4 separate regions of the Homo sapiens genome follow, and all the other regions are reported to be linked to region 2. Evidence: microRNA targets listed by miRTarBase, many of them from high-throughput screens and not tested one by one. Region 2 holds a microRNA gene; each other region holds the end of a gene's coding sequence.
The links. Region 2 holds the annotated microRNA hsa-miR-520a-3p (AAAGUGCUUCCCUUUGGACUGU, at 1,080-1,101, shown strand). A microRNA usually pairs through its seed, bases 2 to 8, with sites in the 3' UTR of a target mRNA and lowers its output. Matches are read on the target gene's strand: a 7mer-m8 pairs with bases 2 to 8, a 7mer-A1 pairs with bases 2 to 7 and ends in A, and an 8mer does both.

Region 1: the mRNA of ABCG8 is a reported target of hsa-miR-520a-3p. Seed matches in the 3' UTR shown: 7mer-m8 at 1,299-1,305.
Region 3: miRTarBase lists ZNF174 as a target of hsa-miR-520a-3p. The part of its 3' UTR that is shown has no 7-base or 8-base seed match.
Region 4: the mRNA of FOXJ2 is a reported target of hsa-miR-520a-3p. Seed matches in the 3' UTR shown: 7mer-m8 at 1,124-1,130 and 7mer-A1 at 1,047-1,053.

What each region holds. Positions count from the first base shown.
Region 1 is chr2:43,877,701-43,880,831 of GRCh38, reverse strand. ABCG8 (ATP binding cassette subfamily G member 8) reads right to left here. Exons shown (of 13, transcript NM_022437.3): 13 at 1-3,056. The coding sequence ends at 2,919. Among named protein-coding and RNA genes, the nearest start is that of ABCG8, 40 kb to the right of the region's middle.
Region 2 is chr19:53,689,854-53,692,984 of GRCh38, forward strand. MIR520A (microRNA 520a) reads left to right here and starts at 1,028; the gene lies at 1,028-1,112. The region is part of intron 2 of LOC107985342 (a long non-coding RNA gene); the gene reads left to right.
Region 3 is chr16:3,408,303-3,411,433 of GRCh38, reverse strand. It overlaps ZNF174 (zinc finger protein 174), which reads right to left. Exons shown (of 3, transcript NM_003450.3): 3 at 2,070-3,113. The coding sequence ends at 2,515. Among named protein-coding and RNA genes, the nearest start is that of ZNF174, 8.7 kb to the right of the region's middle.
Region 4 is chr12:8,052,602-8,055,732 of GRCh38, reverse strand. FOXJ2 (forkhead box J2) reads right to left here. Exons shown (of 11, transcript NM_018416.3): 11 at 216-2,971. The coding sequence ends at 2,883. Among named protein-coding and RNA genes, the nearest start is that of C3AR1, 12 kb to the left of the region's middle.

The sequences.
Region 1 (3,131 bases), not on the chromosome of region 2:
ATCAAATGAGTAAATAACCTAAGGGTAATGGAAGCCAGGTTTCTCACAATTAGAGAAGAGGGAAGAACCTAGGATCAACTCTGTGATGCTGGATTGGAAATGGATGTTATCAGAGTAAACTCATGTGTACTTAGGTGTATATGTATGCACATGCGCGCGCGCGCGCGCACACACACACACACTCCCTAACTCTGTTCACTGAGAGAGCCTGGGAGCAGAGATGTTCCACAAGCAAAGAGCATACTTATCACCAAAACCTTGGCTTCTAAATACCATTTTCCACTAAGAGGAACCCAGATTCTCTGGAGAAACATCGGATTCCAGGGCTGAGATGGGAAAATACAAGATGAACCTGTGACACCAGGTGCGGTGGGTCACACCTGTAATCCCAACACTTTGGGAGGCCGAAGCAGGCAGATCACTTGAGGCCTAGAGTTCACAACCAGTCTGGCCAATATGGTGAAACACTGTCTTTACTAAAAATACAAAAATTAGCCAGGTGTGGTGGTGGGCACTGTTAATCCCAACTACTTGGGAGGCTGAGGCAAGGCAATCGCTTGAACCTGGGAGGCAGAGGTTGCAGTGAGCCGAGATCGCGCCATTGCACTCCAGCCTGGGCCACAGAATGAGATTCTGTCTCAAAAAAAAAAAAACAAAACAAAAAATGAGCCTGAAACTCTTGGTTGTTTCAGCCCTCAAAGGATGATGAGGACATATCAAAAGGATGCAGAAGCCAGCTCGACGGGGTTCCCACTGGCCAAATCAGGGACAAGCTGAGCATCAGAATTAATCACAATAATAAAGGGTTGTAAGGATACAATGGGAATTCACAAGTTTACATCAATCAAAATTTTAAAATGCATAAATGGAAAGTTTACAATTTACATAGTTTCAAAGTACCCACTTACAAAATGCTTATTAATTATAAAGGGAGGGAAAATAGTAACTTGGCTGTGGAGAAGCCTAGCAGACACCCCTTTAATCAAGTGATCAAAGTGAACGTTGTTGGTATGGGAGAAGTTGAAATCACATGCCTTCTGATAGGATGCACTGGGCAGAACACAAATTGAGAGACAGCCTTCAAACTCAAGTATCAAGGTCACAAAAGTGAAGGAAAGTTGACAAACTGTTCCTAAACTGAAAGAGACAAAAGAGACTTGAGAACTAGATCCAAGGCTTGATTCTGGTCTAGATCCCCTTGCTATGGAGGACATGATAGGAACTCCCAGTCAATCTCAAGAATGGGGTCTGCAGGTTGGATGGTGGCAACATGACCGTGCAAGCATCCTGAGTGTTGCAAGTGCTTTGGAAAACGGCAGCATGCTTGAATGTGCACAGATCACCAGGGGGTCTTCTTAAGACGCAGACTCTGACTCATTGAGCCTGGGTGGGGCCTGAGGCTCATGGGACCTATCCAATCAGCTCCAGCTGTGCCCATTCTGCTGGCCCAGGGATCGTACTTGGAGTAGCAAGACTCTAGTGAACCTATGAAGAGTATTTGCTATTTACCTCCCAAACACGCACCTTCCCCTTCTTTTGATTCTAAACTCTAATTTTCCTTTGGGAACATCCTCTCCTGCCCTCTGTGCACCTGTTTTGGGTCAGATAGTCCCCAACACTCAGGCAAGAAGTGTGCAACCTGGGCCTCTGCCTCCCCATCCTCTGGCCACTGTGAAAGGTTCAAGGCTGGTTCTGAAACCCAGGCAGGGCCAGTGTATTCATCTGCTCTCACACTGCTATGAAGAAATACCCAAGACTGGGTAATTTATAAAGAAAAGAGGTTTAACTGACTCACAGTTCAGCACGGCTGGGGCAGCCTCAGGAAACTTGCAGTCGTGGTGGAAGGCTCCTCTTCACAGGGTAGCGGGAGAGAGAATGAGAGCCGAGCGAAGAGGGAAGCCCCTTATAAAACCGTCGGATCTCATCAGAACTCACTCACTCTCAGGAGAACAGCATCAGAGAAACCACCCCTATGATTCAATTATCTCCATCTGGTCCCGCCCTTGACACTTGGGGATTATTACAATTCAAGGTGAGATTTGGGTGAGGACGCAGAGCCAAACCATATCAGTTAGTGAAATGCAACTCTAAGAAGCCTGGCTGAGTTAACAGCCTCTACAGACCCCATTTGTCTTCTGGAGCCTTCCTAAACTCCTAAGGCTTACAGCGGCTCAGGCCTTGCCTTCTGCCCTCTAACTCCAAAGGCCTCAAAGGCTTTTCTGATCCCCATATGACTCCACCACAAAGTATCCATGTGCCCTTAGGAAAATGAATTTTTGCTTCAGTTTTCACACCTATAAAATGGGATACCACTTACCTCAAGGGATTGTCCACCTAAAGTGTTTTCACAGGACCTGCTACAGAGTAGATGCTCAATACATTTTTAATTGTTCACGTTGGCTTTTGGAGCCCATGACCCCACACAAAAAGAAGGGATGGCATCTTGCTGGTACATCTTAGGTCACTTTCTGTATTGATGGTGGCTCACCACGGAGTGTGGGGCCCCTGGAAGATGAAGCCAAATCTGCTAGCTACTGTTATTGTTCCCTCCAGGTTCCAACAATTCCTGCACAGTCTAGCTACCCAATTCATTCCTAGTTTGCTCCCATCCTATATCGAGTTGCCTATATAAATGCATATCAAAAGGAAATAAATTAGCAACGTTGTAGGTGCCACCGAGTGCAGGTTTTCTCCCAGTCATCGCAGTCTCCTGCCAGTGAGCAGAAATCCCTTTCGACTGTCTTTATTCTACTGCCATCCTGTGGCTGGTCTGTGCCACTGCAGCACCCTGGGCCGGATGTAGCTGAGCATCTGTAGGGTCATTGTCCTCACTGTCCCCAGGAAGGGGCTCCTGAGGAGGGAGTGCAGTTGAAGGGTCTGCTCAGGTCCCCCACCAGCGGGCAGACGTCTGGCGTGAATCACCAGTCTTGACTTGGTTTCTGTTTGATGAACCTTAAGGACACGTAGTACAGGACCATGAAGCCACCGCTGAGGCCAATGACGATGAGGTAGATGGCGTAGAGAGGGTACGAGTCCAGCTCCATGACACTGAGGATCTGGAGACACAGACATGCAGTGGGCTCATGAGGAGGATGGAAAGCCGGACGTCCAATAATTTAGAACCCGAGGCC
Region 2 (3,131 bases):
TCTCAAAAATATATGATGTATGGCCAGGTGCGGTGGATCACGCCTGTAATCCCAGCAGTTTGGGAGGCCGAGGCGGGTGGATAACCTGAGATCAGGAGGGCGAGACCAGACTGGCCAACATGGTGAAACCATGTCTCTGCTAAAAATACAAAAAATTAGCCAGGGCTGGTGGCGCACGCCTGTAGTCTCAGCTACTCCGGAGGGTGAGGCAGGAGACTATCACTTTGAGTGTGTGTCTTTGTGTGTGTGTGTGTGTGTGTGTGTGTGTGTGTATGTGTTTCTAGTTTTTACAAGACACAGCCTGACTATATCACCGAGGCTGGAGTGCAGTGGTGCAATGTTGGCTCACTGCAACCTCCACCTGCCACCGCAGCCTCCTGAATTAGTGTCTACAGGTATGCACCACCACACCTGGCTCACTTTTGTATTTTTTGTACAGATGAAGCTTCACCATGTTGCCCAGGCTTGTCTGGAACTCTTGAGCTCAAGTGATCCTCTCACTTCGGCGTCCTGAAGTGCTGGGGTTAGAGATGTGAGCCACCGCACCCAACAGGTACTTGTGTATTTTTTTATTGAGGAGCTTTTACAGCGTAGCCTGTGGTCTCTCCTGGAGGATGTTTGTGTGTGCGACAATGTACATTCTTCAACATCTTAGATTCCATTTTGGATGCCCCCATGGGTACTACATGTGCCTATACTGGAACTCAAGTGAACACTTGGCTCAAAATCCATTGCTGTTCTCTAGAAATTCAGTTCGATTCTCTTGGTTAAAGATAAGGTATGAGTAGTAGGCATTGCTTTTTCTCTTTGGGGGCAAAACTCAGGAGGATTGCCCCTTGATGAACAAGGCTAACCTGCTGAGCCTTTGAAAGAAGGAACTGGAGATGGTCCTTTTAGGGGGTTTATATTCTGGATTCCAGAAAACATGCAAACAGGGCCAGGAAAAATGCATCTTTATTTTTGTGTCCATTTAAACCTGGTCAAGGAAAATTCCAACAATAAACCCAGAGTGCTGGAGCAAGAAGATCTCAGGCTGTGACCCTCCAGAGGGAAGTACTTTCTGTTGTCTGAGAGAAAAGAAAGTGCTTCCCTTTGGACTGTTTCGGTTTGAGTAAAGCAGCGTTGAAGTTGATGCTGATCTTGGTAATACATTTGCAGAGCACGCTCATCATCAGACTCGGATGATGTTGGGGTTCTGATTTTGTTTTTCTCCAAGACAGGGTCTCTGTTGCCCAGGCTGGAGTGCAGTGGCAGTTCCAACCTAGCTCTCCTGGGCCCAAGAGACCCTCTATTTATTTATTTATTTATTTATTTATTTATTTATTTATTTATTCATTCATTCATTTAGAGATGGAATCTGGCTCTGTGACCCAGGCTGGAGTGCAGTAGGACAATCTCCACTCACTGCAACCTCCATCTCCCAGGTTCCAGCAGTTCTGCCACCTCAGCCTCCCATGTAGCTGGGATTACAGGCGCCCACCACCATGTCATGCTAATTTTTGTATTTTTAGCAGAGATGGGGTTACACCATGTTTGCTGGGCTGTTCTCAACTCCTGACTTCAAGTGATTTGCCTCCCTGGCTTCCCAAAGTGCTGGTATTACAGGCGTGAGCCACTGTGTCCGGCCTCAAGTGGTCTTCCTGAGTCAGCCTCCCAAGTAGTTGGGATTACATGGGGCGTGACACAACACTTGGTTCAGCTTTTAATTTTTGGTAGAGATGGGGTCTCTGTTGCTCAGGACGGTCTCAACTCCTGAGCTCAAGCGATCCTACAGGTGTGAGCCACCTTGTCCTGATGACCCATTTCAAAGATAGTTGACTTGGCCAGGCATCATGGGGCACACAGTCCCAGTTACTGCAGGGGCCGGGGCGGGAGGGTGCTTTGATTTTAAGGCTATACCGTGCACAGATCCCACCTTTGAATAGCCACTGCACTCCAGCCTGGGCCAACATAGCAAGATCCCATTTCTTTAAAAACAGATTACATAGCACCTGGTCCCACAGATTTCATTTGGGTTGGTCATGTCATACAATGGCCTCCCATCAATTTAGTATAATCAATCCAAACCATGGTTCCTTCATTAAGAGAGTGGGTAATCCTCCAAGTCCATCCAGTCTATTCTGTAATCCCCAGTGGGTGTCCGTATTGATACAATTTCTTTTTGTTCCTGTTCACTCGTGTCTTTTTAGTGTAATCTGCTTGTCCGTAACACTGAAATTTGTTTTTCCCCAACATCTTGCCATCATTTCTCGGAATAGACCTGCTTTCTCTGCAGGAAGGGTGTAGTTGATTCAACCCTCACCCACTAATGCCAACCCCAGTGAGTTCTTTGACTGTAGCTGCCATGTTTATCCTATTTTCTTTGGGTAACGATTCCAAGGTACCATTCCAATGGGCTTAAACCTTGCATCTAAATGCCAGTTACTTGCTAAGATGTCAAATGTGTCTTATATTAGCTGTGGCTAATATAAGAAACTGTTGTAGACAAGATGAATCTCAGTCACAGTGATAAATGTAGCATGCAACAAAACCAGTTGTTTTCACAAAAATCTTGAGGACCCTAGAAGGGGCTCCCTCGTAACAGGTGGAATGCACAGCAGCTCTTCTTGTTGCCATAGTGAGCGATGCATGTTCTTCCAGTCCTCAACACCTTTTATTTATTTATTTATTTATTTATTTATTTTATTATTATTATTTTTTTTTGAGACAGAGTCTCGCTCTGTCACCCAGGCTGGAGTGCAATGGTGTGATCTCAGCTCACTGCAACCACTGCCTCCCGGGTTCAAGCGATTCTCTTGCCTCAGCCTCACGTGTCGCTAGGACTACAACCGTGCACCACCACGCCCGGCTAATTTTTGTATTTTTAATAGAGACAGGGTTTTGCCATGTTGGCCAGGTTGGTCTGGAACTCCTGACCTCAGTTGGTCCACCTGCCTCAGCCTCACAAAGTGCTGTGAATACAGGTGTGAGCCAACACGCCCGGCTATCAACAACTTTTCCTACGTAGAAATTATTCGGGCACTGGTTTATAGAACCTCACGTGGGTTCACGTAGAATTGAAGGGGACCTCAGCGTCCCTTGCAGATGGGATGTGCAATGTATTTGAGATGTACTCGAACATTGCTGTTGAG
Region 3 (3,131 bases), not on the chromosome of region 2:
TACAGTGGGGATTCTCAACTGTTCACATACTGAACATCTGTTTCTCTTGGCTGGTTATTGACAAAGTCCAGAAGCTAAAGTTATGGAAAAACAATGTTCTTGTTTTGAAAGAGCTGTTATAGTGCATGGTAGTTTCCCAGCCTTGGTGATACTGATTTTTTGAGCCAGGTCATTGCTGTGGGGGCTGGCTGTCCCGGCACTGCAGGCGGTTCAGTAGAACCCACTAGAGGCCAGCAACAAGCCTCCCTTCCCCAGTCCTAACAACCAAAAGTGTCTTTGGACTTTGTCCGACAACCCCTGGGGGGCTCCCAGTTTGAGCACCCCTGGTGTATGGGGTCTAGCAGAGAGGCTGGACCCCAATTTTCACAGAAGTCTGCCTAGGGCTCCTCAGGGAAGGCTTTGAGAGAAGGAAACTCTTGTGAGAGGGAGGAGGCAGGAGGGAGTGGGGAGCATCAGGAAATAAAGGCAAAGGAAACAATTGTGTGCAAAGGCCCCAAAGAGGACTCATAGGTGTGCATATGTCCCTCGGCAGTTAGAAGGGACAAGAGATTCCTTGGGGGGTACAGAAGAGCTCAGCCCACAGCCCTGAGGTGACTGGTAGTTACTTGATGATACTGATGTTTTGTGAAGAATGCTACCTTGCTGAGCGTACATCTGTAATCCCAGCACTTTGGGAGTCTAAAGTGAGAGGATGGCTTGAGCCCAGGAGTTCGAGGATAGACTGGGCAACACAGTGAGACTCTGTCTCTACAAAAAAATAGAAAAATTAGCCAGGCATGGTGGTGCATTCCTGTAGTCCCAACTGCTCGGGAGGCTGAGGAGGGAGGATTGCTTGAGCCCAGAAGATCGAAGCTATAGTGAGGCATGATCACGCCAGTGCACTCTAGCCTGGGCAACAGAGTGAGACCCTGTCTCAAAAAAAAAAAATGCTACTTGCTTCTTATTTTCTGCATCAGGAATGCACTAATCTGCCAAAAGTTTTCTCTAAACTGAGCAATGAGCTAGGAATTGTATACTGATTTGCATTTTAATTTCCGCTTTGAGAAAACGAGGAGGTGGCATTAGATGATCGCTCAGGCTTATTTCCAGGGCTCATTTTATATAAATATATTTTGTCACTTAAAAATACGCTGTTGAGGTACAATTTACATATCATAAAATTAGCCCATTTCAATTATTTTTAGTAAATTTACTGAGTTGTGCAACCATCACTGTAATCCAGTCTTAGAATATTTTCATTACCCCAATCCTTTTGCTATTTTTTTTTTTTCCTGAGACAGAGTCTCACTCTGTCATCCAGGCTAGAGTGGAGTGGTGCAATCATAGCTCACTGCAGCCTCTAACTCCTGGGCTCAAACAATACTTTTGCCTCAGCCTCCAAGAGTAGCTAGCTGGGATTATAGGCATGCACCATCATGCCTGGCTAATTTTTGTATTTTTTGTAGAGACAGGATTTAGCTACATTGCCCAGGCTGGTCTCAAACTCCTGGGCTCGATCACCCTGCCTCAGCCTCTCAAAGTGCTAGGATTACATGTGTGAGCCACTGTACCCCCATTGCATTTTGTTATTCTTAAAGCTAATGGGCTAAGTGAGAAAGGAGAGTGGGAAGAATTCCCTTTTATATCTCCTTAGTACTCTTTGTCCACTACTTGCTTCTCACTGTAGCTTTTCCTTATGTGTTAGGCTGGGGTTGCAGCAACTGTGTAGATTTTTTTTTTCTCAATCAAAGGTGCTTTGAGAACAGGCACGGTGGTTCACACTTGCAATCCCAGCACTTTGGGATGCCAAGGCAGGAGCATTGCTTGAGCCCAGGAGTTCGAGACCAGCCTGGGCAACATAGCGAGACCCTGTCTCAAAAAATAAAAAGGAAAAAAAAAAGGTGCTTTGATACAAAAAAGATCCCTCAAATGTAATTTTCTTTTCTTTTTGTAAAAGCACCATCTAACTACTTGGAAACTCTTCTCGCACAAACGTGCATATTCTCATTTAATTCATCCTTTGCTATAAACAGCTAGTAATTACAGAAAGAATATGAGGGATCTATTTTCCAATTAACTTTGCCTTGAAATTCTGGTAGATCACTCATCTTTATTAAAGAAGTGTGCTCATGATAAAAAATTGTCTGGTATGACAGCAAATGCATAACTATATATATAGAATTTATCCCTTAACATATTTTAGAGGATAAAGCAACAGAGGGACGATTTAACAGTAAGCGGGCCACCTGCAGGATTGTCCTGATTCTCTCTCAGTAGTTACTCCTTGCTCTCTGCAGAGACTTAAGTTCTCTTTGCCCCAGTGCCCAGACCTGCCTTCTCTTCACCCTGTCATCATGCACGGTTGGGCCCTGGTTGGCCTTTTCTGGGCCTCCTCACAGCAGAATGTGCATCATCATTCCTCAAGGGCCTCGTGCTTTCCTTGTAAGTCACACAGTTTTTGTGATTTACATGCAAGTAAGGGGGAGGAGAAACACAAACACCTTCCGTGTGAATCTAAAGCATGGAGTGCTCCTTTTAGTCCCCATGGTGAAGTCGGTGATGCTGGTGAAGGTTTGAGCTCTGGCGAAAGCTTTTCCCACACTGGCCACACTGGTATGGCTTCTCTCCAGTGTGGATCCTCTGGTGCAGCTTCAGGGTTGACTGCCGCCCAAAGCAGTTTCCACACTCTCCGCACGTGTAGGGTCTCTCTCCTGTGTGGACTCTCTTGTGTCTCTTCAGCTCTGAATTCCACGTGAAGCTTTTCCCACAGTCATCACATTTGTAGGGTTTCTTTGCTGAGCGGGTGGGCTGGTGACCAAGATGTTGCAAACGGTTGCTCAGACTCCGTTTACCTCCTTTGCTTTTCTTTAGCTCTCTCAGTGGGTGGCTTTTTAGGGGGCTGCTGATGTATTCCACCCTGCAATGTCTCTGGTAGTGAGCAAATGGCTTTTGAGCATTTGGGGAGCTGACCTGCCTCCGTGACAACCGAGGTTCACTCATATTTGCCCCTCTTGGTTCAGGATTCTGCAGACCATTCCCTTTGGATCTGCCAGCTGACACTGCACATGGCTTTGCTCCTTTAGCCCCTTCCTGTTGTGGATTTTCCTTGTTGTCACTTCTCATTCTGGGGGCCTCTATAATTAGAAAGAAAA
Region 4 (3,131 bases), not on the chromosome of region 2:
TATGTCATCATACTTGATAGCATTTGAAAAGAGGCACGTTAAGGACGTGCCTTTGATTCTTCTTTCCCACCAAGGTCACAAAACGTGTCAGGGTCAACTAATTCAACCCAGTGGTGGAAGGTGGAAGAGGAATAAAGACGAACTGAGACTAAATTCTTTCACGTTTCTCTTTTCCTTCCCTGGCCAAAAGAAACTTGAGACCACTACCAGTAAGATAAAACTGTAAACATTCTTTTTTTTTTTTTATTAAGAAAGCATGCAAAAAAACAATGACAACAACTTGTGAGACCATATACCCCCTTCCCAGGATGCAGCAATGCAAAGCATTATGGGTGGTGGCACAAAGGACTCACCAAACCAGAAACATGAGGAGCAGGGACTGAGGAGAGAAAGGTTGGGATGGGTGGATCTATACCAAATAATTACTCCTTTTGTCCCTCTCCTCCACTTTCTCTCTTATTTCCTCTTATAGGCAGTGAGCTTCTGCAGTTTTGCACACATCACCCAATACAACAATAATGACTACACTTTGTGTCCAGCAATGCTAGACCAACAAGAAAAAGTAGTATTCTTTTCATTTCATGAAGGGGAGGGGAAACTGAGGCCCAAAGGGAGTCAGGTTTGCCCTGTGCCACGTAGCAAGACTGGGCTTGGTGGAAGGGAGCTGGAATCTCAGGAGGCCTAATGGCCAATCTCCAGTCCCAGACCCAAACTTCAGCTACCCTGGCTGCACGCCAGAATTCTTCATGAGACTAGTTTGCAGAAGACACAGATGAACAAGGGGCATTTGCATGTATGATCCTACCCTTGCAAATCCTGTATGGATCTGAACAGGAAAAGGGTTTAGAAAAGAGAAGTGATCATTTACAAATGGGGAATATTGAGGAGAACTGATGGGAAGTTTTGTATAGGACACACCCTGACTGGAAGGAATAAGGAAGGAAAAGATGCCTAAAATAGGGACACTGGGCAAAGGCATTTTGCCACCCTCTAAGAGAAATTCTCCTTTCCCCAATGGGAAATATTATGTCATACTTCAACCCCACTAAGTGCCCTCCAACATCATGGGAGATTCAAGCCACTCGCACCCCCATTTCTTTCTTAGAAAGGCTTCAAAGAAATAAAGTGCTCTTTAGTTAACTGCCCTATCTTGCCCCTTTACTTCAGCCTCACTGGACTTCTTCAATGAACTCTCATATATAACCCCCTTCCAAAAAAAGGAAAGGGGTGGATGAAAGAAAAAAGCAGGAGAGCGGAACGCCAAACCTCTTGGAAATTATGGGTAAATAAAATAATATGCATGAAAAGCAGAAATCACAAAGAAAGTGGCCTTGTCTATTCCATACATTTTGTCCCACAGCTTTTCAGCAAGTGAAATAAGGACAGAAGTAAAATTGTTCTTCCCTCTCGTAACTAAAATTCAACAATCAACATTAAATATACACTGAGTACTTTGCAACAGTAAGTCATGGCCACCCCTTGTAAAAGAGATGAGTTAGCTCCATACCTTTTTCTGGGGGTCCCCCTTGGCCCTCACTGAACTCTTGCCTCTAGATTATTTACTCTCCTCCACCAATCTCCTTCACCCCTCAAAGCCTACTTGCAAAAGCTTCAGCCAGATGATCTGGATTCCAAGAGAAGCATCTGCCTATATATTTAAAGAACTAAAATATTCCCTATCCATTTCTTTGCCAGCTCTTTTTTCCTCTCCCCATCCTCCTACCACCAACACTAAAGGTTTGGCTCTGCTATGAGAGGTGGGAATGAGATTCCCATCATGTCTCAGGGCACGACGAAACTCAGAGTGATAATGGGTTACTTTTTCTTTCTTGAGAATCCCAGAAAATGAGGGAAGAAAAAAGATGGGTGGAAGATTTGGGCAAACAATTAAAGGAGGACAAACTAATATTTGCTGAATGGGAAAAAGGGATGGGAAGATCATTCGTAAATGCAAATAAGAGCCACAATTAATTTTCAGAGAAAATTATGTTTAAAAAGCCAAAATAGTTAAGTTGGAATCATCTCCAAGAAGCTAAAACCATGCTGAATAGTTGTCCTCATGCCCTACCATAGAAGCAGAGTTTGGGCTAAAACCAATCCTATCTTCTTAGAGAACAGGCTCAAAACAAGCCAATGGACACTGATGTAACATGGCAGTGTATACTCAGTTTCACACTGACTTATATTCCATCCCTTCCAATGGTCTCCAATTCCACTAGGATTTTATTGTCACCCTCCTGCACCACCATCATCACTTTCACCCTTGATAGGAAATACAGACTGGCAGAAGTAAGGATTGAAGGTATAAAGGGACAAGGAAGACCTCAGAGGACAGAATTAGCACCATTTTAAAACCTCCAAATTCTTGGCTGCCAAGTAATGTTTCAGACCCTTTCTACTTGGTAATGTGGCCTCTCCAGTCCTGGCCTGAAACTGATGGGAACAAAAAACAATTTAGGGCCAAAAGGTGGGATTAGCATTGAGTTTCTCCAAGAGAAAGGTAAACTGGAGTCTAAAACCTTTCTCTGTAGCTATCATGGCTTCATCTTCCAGCCTGATGATTTTAAATTAGCAAAAGGTGGACATGATCCATGATGTAGGGACAGGAGACTATGGACAGTATATAACCAATAATAATAATAATAATATAAGAATAATAATAAAAGAACTAGGAAAAAACAGGAAGGAAGAGAGAAGAATGAGGCAGGAAAGAGAGGGTTATCTTCGGCAGCATCTTGCAGTGGCTTCTCTGACAGAGAAAGAACAAAAAGAGGATATATGTCTATATACAGACGGGGGGAAGGGACGGGCTGGGGTTGCTCTTTCCCCACTGCCAGATTTCACCACGCGGCCCTGGGCTGATGTCCACACTCTGTGATGCACTAAGTGATCAAGTCCCAGTCGAAGTCATCAGGGATCTCCTCATTGGCACCAGGAGGTGGCACTGATGGCCGAGGGACCATATGGTGTGCTGTTAGAAAGAAAGAAAGAGAGTAAAAGGAGAGTGGATGGGAAGCTGTTCCCTCAATTTACAAGGACAGTGCTCAGCCCCAGATAACACCACGAAGAAGGCCTTGTGAGGCTATCGCCCTTATCAGCTGGAGTTAATTTTGGTTGCAGGTCACCATTTC